Homo sapiens: one gene and its partners. The protein of the gene in region 3 purifies or fractionates together with the protein of the main gene of each other region. This does not show direct contact. Each region holds a gene or a part of one and is shown on either strand. Other genes may lie near its edges.

The links.
Region 1: the proteins of SLC6A8 (region 3) and HACL2 purify together in Homo sapiens (affinity purification with mass spectrometry; 2 studies listed by BioGRID and IntAct, with this or other methods). This does not show direct contact.
Region 2: the proteins of SLC6A8 (region 3) and KDSR purify together in Homo sapiens (affinity purification with mass spectrometry; 2 studies listed by BioGRID and IntAct, with this or other methods). This does not show direct contact.
Region 4: the proteins of SLC6A8 (region 3) and TMEM161A purify together in Homo sapiens (affinity purification with mass spectrometry; 2 studies listed by BioGRID and IntAct, with this or other methods). This does not show direct contact.

What each region holds. Positions count from the first base shown.
Region 1 is NC_000019.10:15,119,089-15,122,804, forward strand, and holds part of HACL2 (2-hydroxyacyl-CoA lyase 2), read right to left. Parts: coding exon 3,605-3,716; intron 994-3,604; coding exon 894-993; intron 428-893; coding exon 330-427; intron 215-329; coding exon 78-214; intron 1-77. UniProt on the Homo sapiens protein: Endoplasmic reticulum 2-OH acyl-CoA lyase involved in the cleavage (C1 removal) reaction in the fatty acid alpha-oxydation in a thiamine pyrophosphate (TPP)-dependent manner. Involved in the phytosphingosine degradation pathway.
Region 2 is NC_000018.10:63,353,509-63,357,224, reverse strand, and holds part of KDSR (3-ketodihydrosphingosine reductase), read left to right. Parts: intron 1-1,661; coding exon 1,662-1,727; intron 1,728-1,925; coding exon 1,926-2,021; intron 2,022-3,716.
Region 3 is NC_000023.11:153,690,711-153,694,006, reverse strand, and holds part of SLC6A8 (sodium- and chloride-dependent creatine transporter 1), read right to left. Parts: intron 2,704-3,296; coding exon 2,454-2,703; intron 2,033-2,453; coding exon 1,900-2,032; intron 967-1,899; coding exon 832-966; intron 745-831; coding exon 641-744; intron 546-640; coding exon 421-545; intron 103-420; coding exon 1-102. UniProt on the Homo sapiens protein: Creatine:sodium symporter which mediates the uptake of creatine. Plays an important role in supplying creatine to the brain via the blood-brain barrier.
Region 4 is NC_000019.10:19,118,471-19,121,496, reverse strand, and holds the end of TMEM161A (transmembrane protein 161A isoform 1 precursor), read left to right. Parts: intron 1-75; coding exon 76-189; intron 190-330; coding exon 331-505; intron 506-635; coding exon 636-732; intron 733-1,313; coding exon 1,314-1,567; 3' UTR 1,568-2,328; downstream 2,329-3,026. UniProt on the Homo sapiens protein: May play a role in protection against oxidative stress. Overexpression leads to reduced levels of oxidant-induced DNA damage and apoptosis.

The DNA of each region.
Region 1 (3,716 bases), on a different chromosome or scaffold from region 3:
CCTCCTTCGTGTGAAGCTGGGTAACAGGGTGAGGGGGTTCCTGGGGGAAGGAGGGAAAGGAAGAGGCTCAGGCCCACCTGCTAGGACAATGACATCCGCCTTCTTCAGGGCCGCACTGCGGTTCTCCCGGATGTGGAGGGGGTGGTTGCGGCCTAACAGCCCCCGTGCCATCCCTCCAAGGAAGCAGGGAACACCCAAGGTCTCCACGGCAGCCCTGGGAGTCCAGGCAGAGCAGAGGTCAGTGTGGCCGGGGCCTCCCGCCTCCCCAAGAGCACCCGAGGACTGGGGACTGGGAACGTGAAAACAAGGGCAGGGCTGGCGCTTCTCACCGAAGCTTGTCGGCAGACGTTGGGGTGAGCAGGGCCTGACTCCCCAGCACCATCAGAGGCCTCTTGGCCCGGCTCAGGATCTCCACACAGCGCTGAACCTGGAGCGAGAGGTGGGGATCAAAGGGCTGTCTTTTTATTTATTTATTTTTTTGAGACACAGTTTCACTCTGTTGCCCAGGATAGAGTGTAATGGCATGATCTCAGCTCACTGCAGCCTCCACCTCCCAGGTTCAAACGATTCTCCCGCCTCAGCCTCCAGAGTAGCTGGGATTACAGGCGCGTGCCACCATGCCTGGCTAACTTTTGTATTTTCAGTAGAGACAGGGTTTCACCATGTTGGCCAGGCTAGTCTTGAACTCCTGGCCTCAAGTGATCCGCCTGCCTCGGCCTCCCTAAGTGTTGGGATTGCTGCTGTGAGCCACCGCGTCCAGCCAAAGGGCCGCCCTTGAGTCGCCATGAGCACCCAAGATTAAGGCCCCAGTACTGACTCAGGGAGAGGGTCAGGGGGCCCTCTCCCCTCAGGGAGAGGGTAGGGTCCTCAGACACAAAAGAGAGGCAATTCACCTGCTGCGGGGAAGCCTGGGGGATGTCCAGGGGCAGCGGTCCCTCGGGCTGAGGCTCCCAGGCTCCTGCAAAGAGGTTGGCCAGGTAATTCTCTAAATACCTGCAAAAGGGAGGGGGAAGAAACCAAGTTGCCAGAATTAACTAACTACAAGGATTCCAGGATCTGAGCAAGGAAAGGGGCCGGGAGAAAAGCCAGGAGCAAAGTGGCATGGGGACAGGGTGGATGAGTGACACCTCAGGGACAGACGAACCCTAGTGGCCAGGTCTTCAACTGCCTGTTTGCCCTCGGTAGCCTCTGGGGTCCACCCCAACTCCACGTAGCCCCCCAGAAGCAAGGAACGCAGGCTCAGCATGCCAGGATTAAGCCTGTGGGTCCAACAGATGTGAGCTCAAGTCCTGGCTCTGTCACTTCCTAGCTGTGCAACTTAGGGCAAGTGACTTCACCCTTCTGAGCTTCCACCTCTGTCAATGTAAATATGAACCTCCCTCCCCAGGTTCAAGGATCTGTCCACTTAGGACATGAGGCGCTTTGCATGGGAGTTCTGAACACTGTCCTCTCCTGCTTCAAACAGGGTCTTCTCGGTCTCCTTGCTCACTGGGCCCCAGGGCCCCAACTTTCCTGAAGGACCTGTGCAGGGCCCTGGAGACACAAAGATAGATCCTGCCCAGCCCTCCCCTCAGGGGGCGCTCTATCCAGCGAAAGACAGACACATGGGCATTGGCAGGAAACAGTCGGAGCTCAGAGTCAGAAGCCTCTGCTTTCACCGTTAAGGACAGGCCAAGACAGCACAGAAGCAGCCCAGGATGGAACCGTGGGAAGCCCCGCAAGTAAAGAAAAGGCAAGGGAGGCTGAGGCAGGAGGATTGCTCGAGGCCAGGAGTTCAAGGCTGTGGTGAGCTATGATCATACCACTGCACTCCAGCCTGGGTGATAGAGTGAGGCCCTGTCTCAAAACAAAACAAAACAAAAAAGGCAAGATAAGAGATAGCCTTGTGAGAGGCAGCCCAAGAGAGAGGGGCAAGGAGAACAAGGGGAGGGACTGACTGGGAAGCCAGGGGGCAAAGTGCATTAAGAATGAGGCTATATGACCAAAATGGTGAAACCTCATCTCTACTAAAAATACAAAAATTAGCTGGGTATGGTGGACTGCACCTGTATTCCCAGCTACTCCGGGGGCTGAGGCAGGAGAATCACTTGAACCCGGGAGGTGGAGGTTGCAGTGAGCCAAGATCGCACTACTGCGCTCCAACCTGGGGGACAAAGCGAGACTCCGTCTCAAAAAAAATAAAGAGGCCATAGAACAAAATCACTACTGCCTGAGCTGACCCTCAGGCGCTTCACACACATCCGGAGTACAGGAGCCTGACTACCTTGTCCACTGATGATGCCCCGTGCCTGTCCTGGAACCTGGCACATGGCTGCCGCTCGCTAAATGTATGGAAAGGAAGGGCCAAGGACAGGCAAAGGGAAGGGACTGAGGGGAAGGGAGAGAAGGAGGAAGAAGAGGAAGAGGAGGAGGAGAAGAAAGGAAAGGAAGAAGAAGAAGAGAAGAGGCCAGGCGCAGTGGCTCATGTCTGTAATGTTTGAGAGGCCGAGGAGGGTGGATCACTTGAGGTTAAGAGTTCAAGACCAGCCTGGCCAACATGATGAAACCTCGTCTCTACTAAAAATACAAGTATTAGCCAGGTGTGGTGGCGGGCGCCTGTAGTCCCAGCTACTCAGAAGGCTGAGGCAGGAAAATCACTTGAACCCAGGGGGAGGCGGAGGTTGCAGTGAGCCGAGATCACGCCACTGCACTCAAGCCTAGGCAACAGAACGAAGAATCTGTTTCAAAAAAAAAAAAAAAGAAAGAAAAGGACAAAGATGTGAGGGAAGGAAAGGAGGAGGAAGGAGAGGGCTCGAGTCTGGGCTCTGCCACTTTTTTTTTTTTTTTTGAGACGGAGTCTTGCTCTGTCACCCAGGCTGGAGTGCAGTAGCACGATCTTGGCTCACTGCAAGCTCCACCTCCTGGGTTCACGCCATTCTCCTGCCGCAGCCTCCCAAGTAGCTGGGACTACAGGCGCCCGCCACCACGCCCGGCTAATTTTTTTTTTTTTTGTATTTTTAGTAGAGATGGGGTTTCACCATGTTAGCCAGGATGGTCTCGATCTCCTGACCTCGTGATCTGCCCACCTCGGCCTCCCAATGTGCTGGGATTACAAGTGAGAGCCACCGCACCCGGCCTGGGCTCTGCCACTTCTTAGCTGTGTGACTTTGGGCAAGTGACTTCACCTTTCTGAGCTTCCTCCTCTGTAAATGTAAGAATGAACCTCCCTTCCGAGGTTCAAGGATCATCCTTTAGGAGGAGGAAAACGGAGAGGACGATGGGAAAGGTGGTGGGGGAAAGGGAGGAGAAGAGGAAGGAAGAGGGAGGAGGAAGAGGAGGAAGAAGAGATGATGGAGGAGGAGAAGAAAGGGAAAAGGAGGAGGAGGAGGGCTGTCCTGAGCCTCTCCCCTTTGCTGCCTCCACGAGGGCCGCCTTGCTTTCCCTACCCACCCAGTTCATTCCTGCCTCAGGACCTTTGCACATGCTGTTCCTTCTACCTGGAATGCTCTCCCCCCAGCTGTCTCCTCCCAGTCCACATGTGAATCAAAGGAGGATGGGTGTGGGCTGGAAGCTGCAGGAGAGAACGGGGGATAAAGGAGGGAATGGCAGGGGTGGGGCTATTCACCAGGAGACCACTCGGCCCACGAGGCCCTTGGGTGGCTTGGCTGGCACCATCTCCTTCTGGACCATGAAGTAGGGGTACAGCACGTCAACGGGCAGCTCCACAAACACCGGAC
Region 2 (3,716 bases), on a different chromosome or scaffold from region 3:
CGGTTTCTGTTGCGCCACATCCCTGCCAATACTTGGTATTGACAGACTTTTTACTTTTTGCCTTTCTGATGAGTTTTGAATAGTATTTCACTGTGGTATTCATTGACTTTTTCCCTTCTAGAATGTTAGAGATCTTTCCATGTGCATTAAGTAAATTTGCCTTAAATTGCTGCAGCCTAGGATTGAAGTACACCAGAGCTTATTCCGTCAGGTCCCTGCTATTGAGCTGTTTCCATTCTTTTTATTTTATTTTGTATTTTTATTTTTGCAATTGCAGTCTGTGCTGCAAGTAAAAATCCTTGTGTATATCTTCTGCACATGTGAGTTTTTCTCTAAGACTGTGGTCTTTACCCCCTTCTCTGAAGCCCACAAGCATTGGAAAAACACCAGCTCTGTAAATTGCCCCGTTTTTTCCCGTATTCCTGTAATATCTGATAGACGAAGGAGTATGGTGTGAAGTCATGGAGTCAGTGTTCAGGGCCAAGGCCAGTCTTGCCTGCTGCCAACACTGTCTCCGCTCTGGGCTTCCTCATCATGACACCTTCTACCTCTTCATCTACCAAAGGACTTTAGGTCAGGTGGAAAACTTACCTTTCACATCAAGGAAGGGAGATAGGGCTGGGGCAGGCGAGAATGAGCTTGATCCTTCTGCCCTGCCAGGCTTCTAGGGACCTTTTGTGTGTGTGTGTGACTTGTTAACATTTTTTTGTTCTGAGATTTCACTTGTCTGTGGCATAGATTTTATTATTAGTAACTGATCTAATACTGCATGAAAAGGCTTGTTTTAAAATTAATCATATGATTACTACTGCCTTTTTTTTTTTTTGAGACGGAGTCTCACTCTGTTGCCCACGCTGGTGTGCAATGGCATGATCTCAGCTGACTGCAGCCTCTATCTCCCAGGGTCAAGCAATTCTCCTGCCTCAGTCTCCTGAGTAGCTGGGATTATAAGTGCCCACCACCACGCCAGGCTAATTTTTTGTATTTTTAGTAGAGACAGGGTTTCACCATGTAGGCCAGGCTGGTCTCAAACTCCTGACCTCAAATGATCTACCTGCCTCGGCCTCCCAAAGTGCTGGGATTATAGGCGTGAGCCACCGCGCCTGGCCGATTACTACTACCTTTAAAACAATGTTTTCTATCTGAGGATGTTGGGATAAAATCCACTCTAGGTATACATTACAACCAAGGGCAACCCCTCTAGACTAGAATGCTGCAGGTTATATTTGCAAAGAGGGCTGTTTCCTTTTCTTAGGAATTTTGATCATTTGGACAGGATTCCTTCTTGAAAGGAATCAGCACTGAGGCCCTTATATGGAATATTTCCATCACTCCCTAGGGTTGGCCTGTGCCCTTTCACAGTTCCTTCCATCCTCCATGCCTGGCTGTGGGCAACCCCTGATCTGCCTTCTGTCACTATAGATTAGTGGCATTTCAAGAGGAGCATTTATATATTTTTAAAAAGATTCCTCAGAGTTTTAACTCCAAAAGCTGCCAAGAAAATTAGATTCTGCTAATTGCATCATCAGCAAACACTGAAATCTGTTCATTCAATATTGGCTTCCTTCTGTATTCAATGAACTGTCTTTTCTTTAAAAAATATCTTTAAGAAATAGTTTGGTACCTGCAAAACTTTGATCACTTTTTTTCTTTTTTAACAGGTGGTGCTTTGCATATCAGTTGATGTATCTCAAGACTATAACCAAGTAGAGAATGTCATAAAACAAGTAAGAGGTTGGGCTAATTGGAATTCACCAATGTGCTTGACTTTTGATTTGTTCTTGCCATTTTGCTATGTGGCTTGGAATGGACACAACTTCTCTATAGGTTTAATAGTTTTGTAAATTTTATTTATCAGCATGGATTTGCTGCTGAGTGGTTTTTCTTCTCTGTTTCTTAATGCCTGCTCTGCTACATTTTTCTAGGCACAGGAGAAACTGGGTCCAGTGGACATGCTGGTAAATTGTGCAGGAATGGCAGTGTCAGGAAAATTTGAAGATCTTGAAGTTAGTACCTTTGAAGTAAGTAAAAATGTTTGCTCACTGCAGTAGCACATATGCTAAAAGCAGAGCAAGCTACGGGTAAAAGCTTTAAGAATCAATTAGATGAATGCATTCAGATGTCCATGGAAGCTTTAGAAGACTCTAGAGGAAGGCTGAACAAGGTGAAGCTGAACAAGGTTTTCATCCCAGTGTCAGGACCATTGAAGCTTAAGAGTTTAGACATTTTACAGCTGAGAAAACCAGCTAAAATGGGAATGGACCTTCTAATCTGACACAGATTACTGTAGCAGTTCACTGAGGTCATATTTTCAAGAGAACACTTTGTAACCTAAGAGATGCCGGATGTTCCTATCAAACATCAGTATTATTAACAAGGAGAAACCAAAAAAGTTGAAGGACAGACTCACTAGAGTTCTCAAATCAAGATAAAAAGATACTGCATCTTATTGATGTTTCTATTTTTAATCAGGTTTACCAAGGAACTTCTCTTGGTAATTTATTTCAGCACCAAAGAAATGAACACTAGATTTGAAATTTTTATTTTTTCTTTTTTTGAGATGGAATTTCACTCTGTCACTCAGGCTGGAGTGCAGTGGCGTGATCTCAGCTCACTGCAACCTCCACCTCTCAAGTTCAAGTGATTCTCCTGCTTCAGCCTCCCTAGTAGCTGGGATTACAGGCACATGTCACCACACCCAGCTAATTTTTTTTATTTTAGTAGAGATGGGTTTACGCCACGTTGGCCCGGCTGGTCTCAAACTCCTGACCTCAGGTGACTGGCCCACCTCTACCTCCCAAAGTGCTGGGAGTACAGGCATGAGCCACCAGGCCCGGCCTGAAATGTTTTTAAAATGGAAAACGTTTTTTAGTTGCCATCGCATCAACAATCTTTTTCTTCCTTTTTTTTGAGACAGAGTCTTGCTCTGTCGCTGAGGCTGGAGTACAGTGGCACGATCTCGGCTCACTGCAACCTCTGCCTCCCGGGCTCAAGCGGAGTGTCCTCCAGCCTCCTGTGAGGATGAAGCTGGGGAGTGTGTTGGTGTCTTCGTGTGCGCCGTCTAGACAGACTTTCCCTTAAACCTCTCTCTTTATCTAGACTTACTATCCCTAGAAACAGAACCTCCAGTCTCCTGCCAGGCTGGAAGAGGGGTACAGATCTACCCTGTGGAGAGGGGAAAAACATCTAAGATCTAACTGCCTTTTTTTTTCATTGTCCTACATTATTTTTTTAATTTGAAGTGAAATTCATATAACATAAAATTAACTGTTTTTAAAGTGAGCCATGCAGAGGGATTCAGCATATTCACAATGAGGTGCACCCACCCCCTCCGCCTAGTTCTAAAGCATATGCATCACCCATAGGGCGGCCCTCACCTGGTAAGCAGTTGCTCCCCATCCCTGCTCACCCCCACACCCAATCTCTGACAACCACCAATCTGTATTCTGTCTCTGGTCATTTCGTATGATTGGAATCATGATATGTGCACTTCTGTGTCTGACCTCTTTCTCTTAGCATCAGTTTTTGAGGCTCATCCACATGTAGCATATATGGGTGCCTCATTCCTTTTTATAGGGTGGTGATATTCCTTTGTATGGATCGACCACATTCTGTTTAGCTATTCATCATCGATGGCCATTTGGGCTGTGTCTAGCTGACTGCTTATTAAATAGACTCTTAGTCCCTACTCCTGTCTCAGCCCCATGCCAGCCCAC
Region 3 (3,296 bases):
GACCAAGCAGCAACAGCATGAAGAAGAACAGGGCAGCCCAGAGTGGGGCCACTGGCATCAGCGTGACAGCCCGCGGGTAGGCGATGAAGGCCAGGCCCGGCCCTGTGGGAAAGGTGCAGGCTCTAGACCTTGTAGCCGATGTCCTGCCCTGTGCGCACCCTGAGCCCTGCCTGCAACACTCGCGCCCATGCCCACGCCTGCCTCAGAGGCGCTGTCAACCCTGGGTCGTGCGGCAGGGGCTGGGAGGTCCTTTCTCTGTCAACATTGACAAATCCCAGGACCTGCCCCCACAGGCCCACAATCTGACAAGTTCCGTTTGAATCCTCGTCACTTTTCAGCATTTCTATTGCATGTTCCTGTACATCATGCATCTGGGTAGCACTCGCTGCTCTGGAGGCGGGGCTGGGGGTAGGGCCCTACCTGACTCTGCCACCTTGGAGATGTGCACGCCCTGCTCTGCAGCCATGAAGCCCAGGATGGAGAAGACCACGAAGCCAGCAAAGAAGCTGGTCCCACTGTTGATGAGAGCCAGGATGATGGCGTCCCTGAGGGGTGGAGGGGCCAGAGTGGATGGGTTAGGCTGCTGGGCAGGGCGGGGCAGGGCAGGACAGGGCACGGGTGGCAGGGCGGCGGTGCTTACTTGTAGCAGTTGTTGTTGAAGCGGTTGTAGCTGCCCAGGGCTGTGAGGGCCCCCAGGCCAATGGCGTAAGAAAAGAAAATCTGGGTCCCCGCATCTATCCACACCTAGAGAAGGGCCGGAGAGCGCAGGCATGAGGGGCCTGCAGGGCTCCCCCGCAGCGCCCTGCTGCAGCCTCTCCACCTCCACCTCACCTGAGGGGACCCCAGCTTTGACCAGTCAGGCTTGAGATAGTAAATGATGCCATCCAGGGCGCCAGGCAGCAGCACTCCACGCACCAGCAGCACGACCAGGACCACGTAGGGGAATGTAGCAGTGAAGTACACGATCTGGGGGGCCAGGCTGCTCAGCGGAGGCTGTGGCACCACCTCCCTCACACCCCCACTCCCAGCGCCTCCGGTCCCCCTTGCGGGCAGGTATGTTCAGAGGTCCCCATTGTCCTCCGAGCCATGGCTCCCGCCAGAGGAAGCTAGGGGCAAGGCTGCGCCCCGGCAGCCCTGGCCAAGTGCAGTGGGGAAGCTCCCTGGGCGCCTCGTTTGTCTGCAGGGACGCGTGTCGGTGGGGAGCAGGCGAGCCTCTGGGAGCTCTCCTCAGTGGGGACAGGAGGCGTGGAGCACGTGGGGAGTGAGAGCTGTATGAGTGTGTGGGCAGTGCAGGTGTGGGAGGCCCAGGCAGGGAGCGGGATATTGGATCCGGGTCGGGTCCCCCTCCTCTTCTGGAGAGAGGTGGGGGTTGAGCAGGTGGAGAGTGGAACTGGGCCAGGCAGAGGCAGGCGAGATGCAGCTGCCACACTGTCTGCCCCCTCTTCCCACATGCTGCTCTGGGGACCTTGTCCCCCAGGGAGCTGGCCATGTCCCACAGCTCTAGACACTGTCTTCTTTGTTCAGGTGACTCCCCAGCCTGACCAGGAGCCCCCAAGGGATGTGGCCAGACTCTGCTCTGGGTCCCCAAGGCAAGATAGGTAACAGATGGCCAGACCAGGTCCACCAGACTGTCACAAGAGTCAGAGACTGGCAGGAGGGCACCAGTGGGGGTGATGGGCACAGGGAAGGGACAGTGCCTGCCAGGGCCTCTATCCCCAGGAGCAAAGGCTGCTGGGCCCTGGATTTGCAGGGTGGGGAGCATTGCTTGGCTTTCAGTACCTCCCCCTTCCTTAGGGCTAGACTCTGTCTGGTCACCTCCCGTTGCCACAGGTGTGCCTGGCACAGACATCCGGCTCCCAGGGCTGAGCCACCCTCCCCGCTGCATGCCTCTAGTGGTACCTTTCCCGTGGATTTGACCCCCTTCCAGACACAGAAGTAGACCAGCACCCAGCAGGCCAGCAGACAAAGGGTCACCTCCCAGTTGAGGGCCCCTGGCACCTCCAGTCCCCCAGACAGCCTCAAGACTTTGTTCCTAGGGGAGGGAGGGAGGTCCCATGAGGCCTGTGCCAGCAGAGGATGGAGCCACAGGGTCCACCCCCAGGAGTTGTGGCTCCCTTCTCTCCCACAGCCCAGGGTTCAGCGGGTCCCTCTTGTCCAATTGGGCTGGGCCTGGAGCCCACGATCCCCTGGCCATTGGGAGGCCACTCCCATCCCACCTCACATGCAGCCCCAGCTCCCCCATCAGGGGGGAGTGACCAGGACAGTGATCGGCTGCCGAACCCAGGAGCGAGGCTGGCCCCAGGACTCTCCGAGGACAGGCAAGGGCAGGCAGGGTCCAGGATGGACTGCCAGGCAACACCCTGGTGCCCCCTCAGGGCCACTCCCCTGGAGCCGGGCAACATGAGGGAGACCTGGGGGATGGGATGGGCTTGGCCCAGAGGTGCCGGACTCACTCCCAGAACTCGATGACAGGGGACCGGCGGTCAGCAAGCTGGTCACAGGTGAGGTTGGCCAGGCTGGCATTGGCACAGTCTTCATGGCGGAAGATCTCCACGCAGTCGGGAGTGTTCCAGGTGTGGCCACATGTGGCCCAGGGCAGCGTGGTGGTAAAGGACTTGACCAGGTAATAGAAGCCCCAGGCCAGCACCATGATGTAGTAGGTGTTGCAGTAGAAGACGATCACCATGGAGGCGTAGCCCAGGCCTGGGGCCGGGAAGTCCTTGCCATGTAGATTCTTCCCTGGCCACCTCCCCCTGCCACCCCTTTATGTCCCCACCCAGGCTGGCCGTGCTCCCACCATCTGTCCTCCTGGAGCCTTGTTTGTGGTGCTCCTGACTCCCCTGGGCTCCCCCTTGTGTGAGCCCCAACACTGCGCTGACTCCCCAGCCTGTCTCCTCTCCTCCAGCCGCCCCCTAGACCCAAGGCAGAGCGAGCCCCTCTCCTCCTGTCCCCATCTGACCAAGTGCTGTGGAGTCTCCAGCCTCATACACCTGGCCCCTTCTGTGGGTCCCACTGCCACCATGGCGGTTCCAGGAGGTCCAAGCCTCTGCCTGGCCACCCAGTAGCCTCCAGTCCTCAGCAGCTGGTGTTGATGGTGGTGGTGGGGGGGGGGGGTTTCTAGTCGCCTGAGGTAGTGTTGGAGACAGTCGCCCCTGCAGTGGGCAACCTCAGTACGTCGCTCCACCTGTCTGTGCCCCAGCGTCCTTGGGGATAGTAACAGTAGGACCTACCTAGAGAGCCAAGGGTGCTGCTGGGCAGGTCCCGTCCCCAGCCCGGCTATGCCTGGCCTGTCCTTG
Region 4 (3,026 bases), on a different chromosome or scaffold from region 3:
GACTAGGGAGCTTAAGGGAGAGACTCGAGGAGAGGGGGTACCCAGGCCTCACTCCCTCCTGCCCTCACCCCCCAGGTTCCTCCTGCACACCAGCTTCCTGTCTCCCCTGTTCATCCTGTGGCTCTGGACAAAGCCCATTGCACGGGACTTCCTGCACCAGCCGCCGTTTGGGGAGACGCGTTTCTCCCTGTGCGTATTGGGTGGGGCTAGGAGGTAGCTGGGGCTCCCCTGGGTGCCCTAGCCTCTGAGATTCAGGGAGGAGCCTGGGGAAGATCCTGGGGGGTCGGGGGCGACCTTCTTAGTCCCTTGCCCCCGGCCCTCTCCGCACAGGCTGTCCGATTCTGCCTTCGACTCTGGGCGCCTCTGGTTGCTGGTGGTGCTGTGCCTGCTGCGGCTGGCGGTGACCCGGCCCCACCTGCAGGCCTACCTGTGCCTGGCCAAGGCCCGGGTGGAGCAGCTGCGAAGGGAGGCTGGCCGCATCGAAGCCCGTGAAATCCAGCAGAGGGTATGGACGCCCCGATGACCTAGGCCAGAGGGAACCTGGGGCTCAGGGTGGGGTTCCTGGTCCTTTGGGCGTGGAGTCGTCCCAAACCAGAAGGCCTCCTGCTGCAGCCACCCCTGCTACCTGCCCACAGGTGGTCCGAGTCTACTGCTATGTGACCGTGGTGAGCTTGCAGTACCTGACGCCGCTCATCCTCACCCTCAACTGCACACTTCTGCTCAAGACGCTGGGTGAGATGCCGCGGTGTGGGGGTGGAGGAGGGGCGGAGTTGGAAGATAAAACAGAGTGGAGGTGGACTCTGGCGGGGACCGCGGTGGGGGGGGAGAGGCGGGGCCTAGGCAGGGGGCGGAGACTGTGGTAAGGCAGGGTCTGAGCAGGAAGCGGAGCCTGGAGTGGGGCTTGCCTTGGACAGGAAGTGGAGCCTGGGGATGGGTGCAATCTGAGCAGGAGGCGGGGCCTGGGTAGGGGGCGGGGACTGTGGTGAGGCAGGGTCTGAGCAGGAGGTGGAGTTTGGGATGGCGTTTGCCTTAGGAGGTGGAGCCTGGGGAGGGGTTGCGTCTTGGCAGGAGGCGGGGCCTGGGGAGGGGGCAGGGCATGTATTGAGGCAGGATCTGAGCAGGAGGTGGGGCCTGGGGTAGGGTTTGCCTTGGACAGGGGGCAGCGCCTGAGGGGGTGGAGACTGGGCTGGAGATGGAGTCTGAGACAGGGGTGGGAGTGTCTGGAGGAATGGGCCTGGCCCCCCGTGCCAGCCCTGTCCCTCGCCCCCTCCCCCATTTTTCCACTCATACCTCGCTTCATCCTCTTCTCCTAGGAGGCTATTCCTGGGGCCTGGGCCCAGCTCCTCTACTATCCCCCGACCCATCCTCAGCCAGCGCTGCCCCCATCGGCTCTGGGGAGGACGAAGTCCAGCAGACTGCAGCGCGGATTGCCGGGGCTCTGGGTGGCCTGCTTACTCCCCTCTTCCTCCGTGGCGTCCTGGCCTACCTCATCTGGTGGACGGCTGCCTGCCAGCTGCTCGCCAGCCTTTTCGGCCTCTACTTCCACCAGCACTTGGCAGGCTCCTAGCTGCCTGCAGACCCTCCTGGGGCCCTGAGGTCTGTTCCTGGGGCAGCGGGACACTAGCCTGCCCCCTCTGTTTGCGCCCCCGTGTCCCCAGCTGCAAGGTGGGGCCGGACTCCCCGGCGTTCCCTTCACCACAGTGCCTGACCCGCGGCCCCCCTTGGACGCCGAGTTTCTGCCTCAGAACTGTCTCTCCTGGGCCCAGCAGCATGAGGGTCCCGAGGCCATTGTCTCCGAAGCGTATGTGCCAGGTTTGAGTGGCAAGGGTGATGCTGGCTGCTCTTCTGAACAAATAAAGGAGCATGCCGATTTTTACAAACAGGGTCTGAGTGGTTTGGGACTCGGGCTTGTGCAGGGTGGTAGCTGTCTTGCACGTCCCTGTGGCACCTGCCCGGGTGCAGGGTGGGGGCTGCGCGGGAGGGAGAGAGGAGCAGGACTGAGAGGGGAGCAAAGGTCTGGGAGGAGAAAGGAGAGCAAGAAGGAGGCCAGGCTCGGCGGCTCACGCCCGTAATCCCAAATCCCAGCACTTTGGGAAGCCAAGGCGGGCAGATCACTTGAGGCCAGCAGTTTGAGACCAGCCTGGTCAACGCATGGTGAAACCCAGTCTTTACTAAAATAACAAAAATTAGGCATGGTGGCGCATGCATGTAGTTCCAGCTACTGAGAAGGATGAGCCAGAAGAGTCGCTTGAACCTGAGAGGTGGAGGCTGCAGTGAGCCGAGATCGCATCACACTCCAGCCTGGGTGACAGAGTGAAACTCTGTCTCAAAAAAAAAAAAAAAGAAAAAGAAGAAATGCAAGTGTCCCAGGAAAAGTCCAAAAGCAGGATGGAAGAGACCAGAAATCAGGGGAAGTTGGAGTCCCAGCTGAGAGGGCAGGTGGCCTGGGACGGACGGGCAGGTGAGAGAAATGCACCATGAGGGAGTGCCAGGAGAAGGTTAGATGGGCAGGGAAACCTTAGAGGAAAACCAGTTTGAGGAATGGGAGGGCGGGGAGCCCACAGTGATGCCAGCGTCTGCTACAGGTATGCAGGTGACTTGTATAGATATCACACACAGGGAGGGGGGAGGGGCATATTGAGGCCTTGGTGACCCAGGGAAGGGATGTGGGGCCGTCATGGACTCTGAAATTGTCCTGTAGCTGTGACTCCAGGGTGTGTCCACACGTGTGTTACAATGTAAGGTGCAGGCTGGGTGCCGTGGCTCATGCCTGTAACCCAACACTTTGGGAGACCGAGGCAGGCCAATCACCTGAGGTCAGCAGTTCAAGACCAGCCTGGCCAACATGGTGAAACCCTGTCTCTACTAAAATACAAAAAAAATTAGCCAAGCGTGGTGGTGCACACTTGTAATCCCAGCCTCTCGGGAGGCTGAGACAGGAGAATCGCTTGAACCCGGGAGGCAGAGGTTGCAGTGAGCCAAGATCATGCCATTGCACTCCAGTCTGGGTGACAGAGTGAGACTCC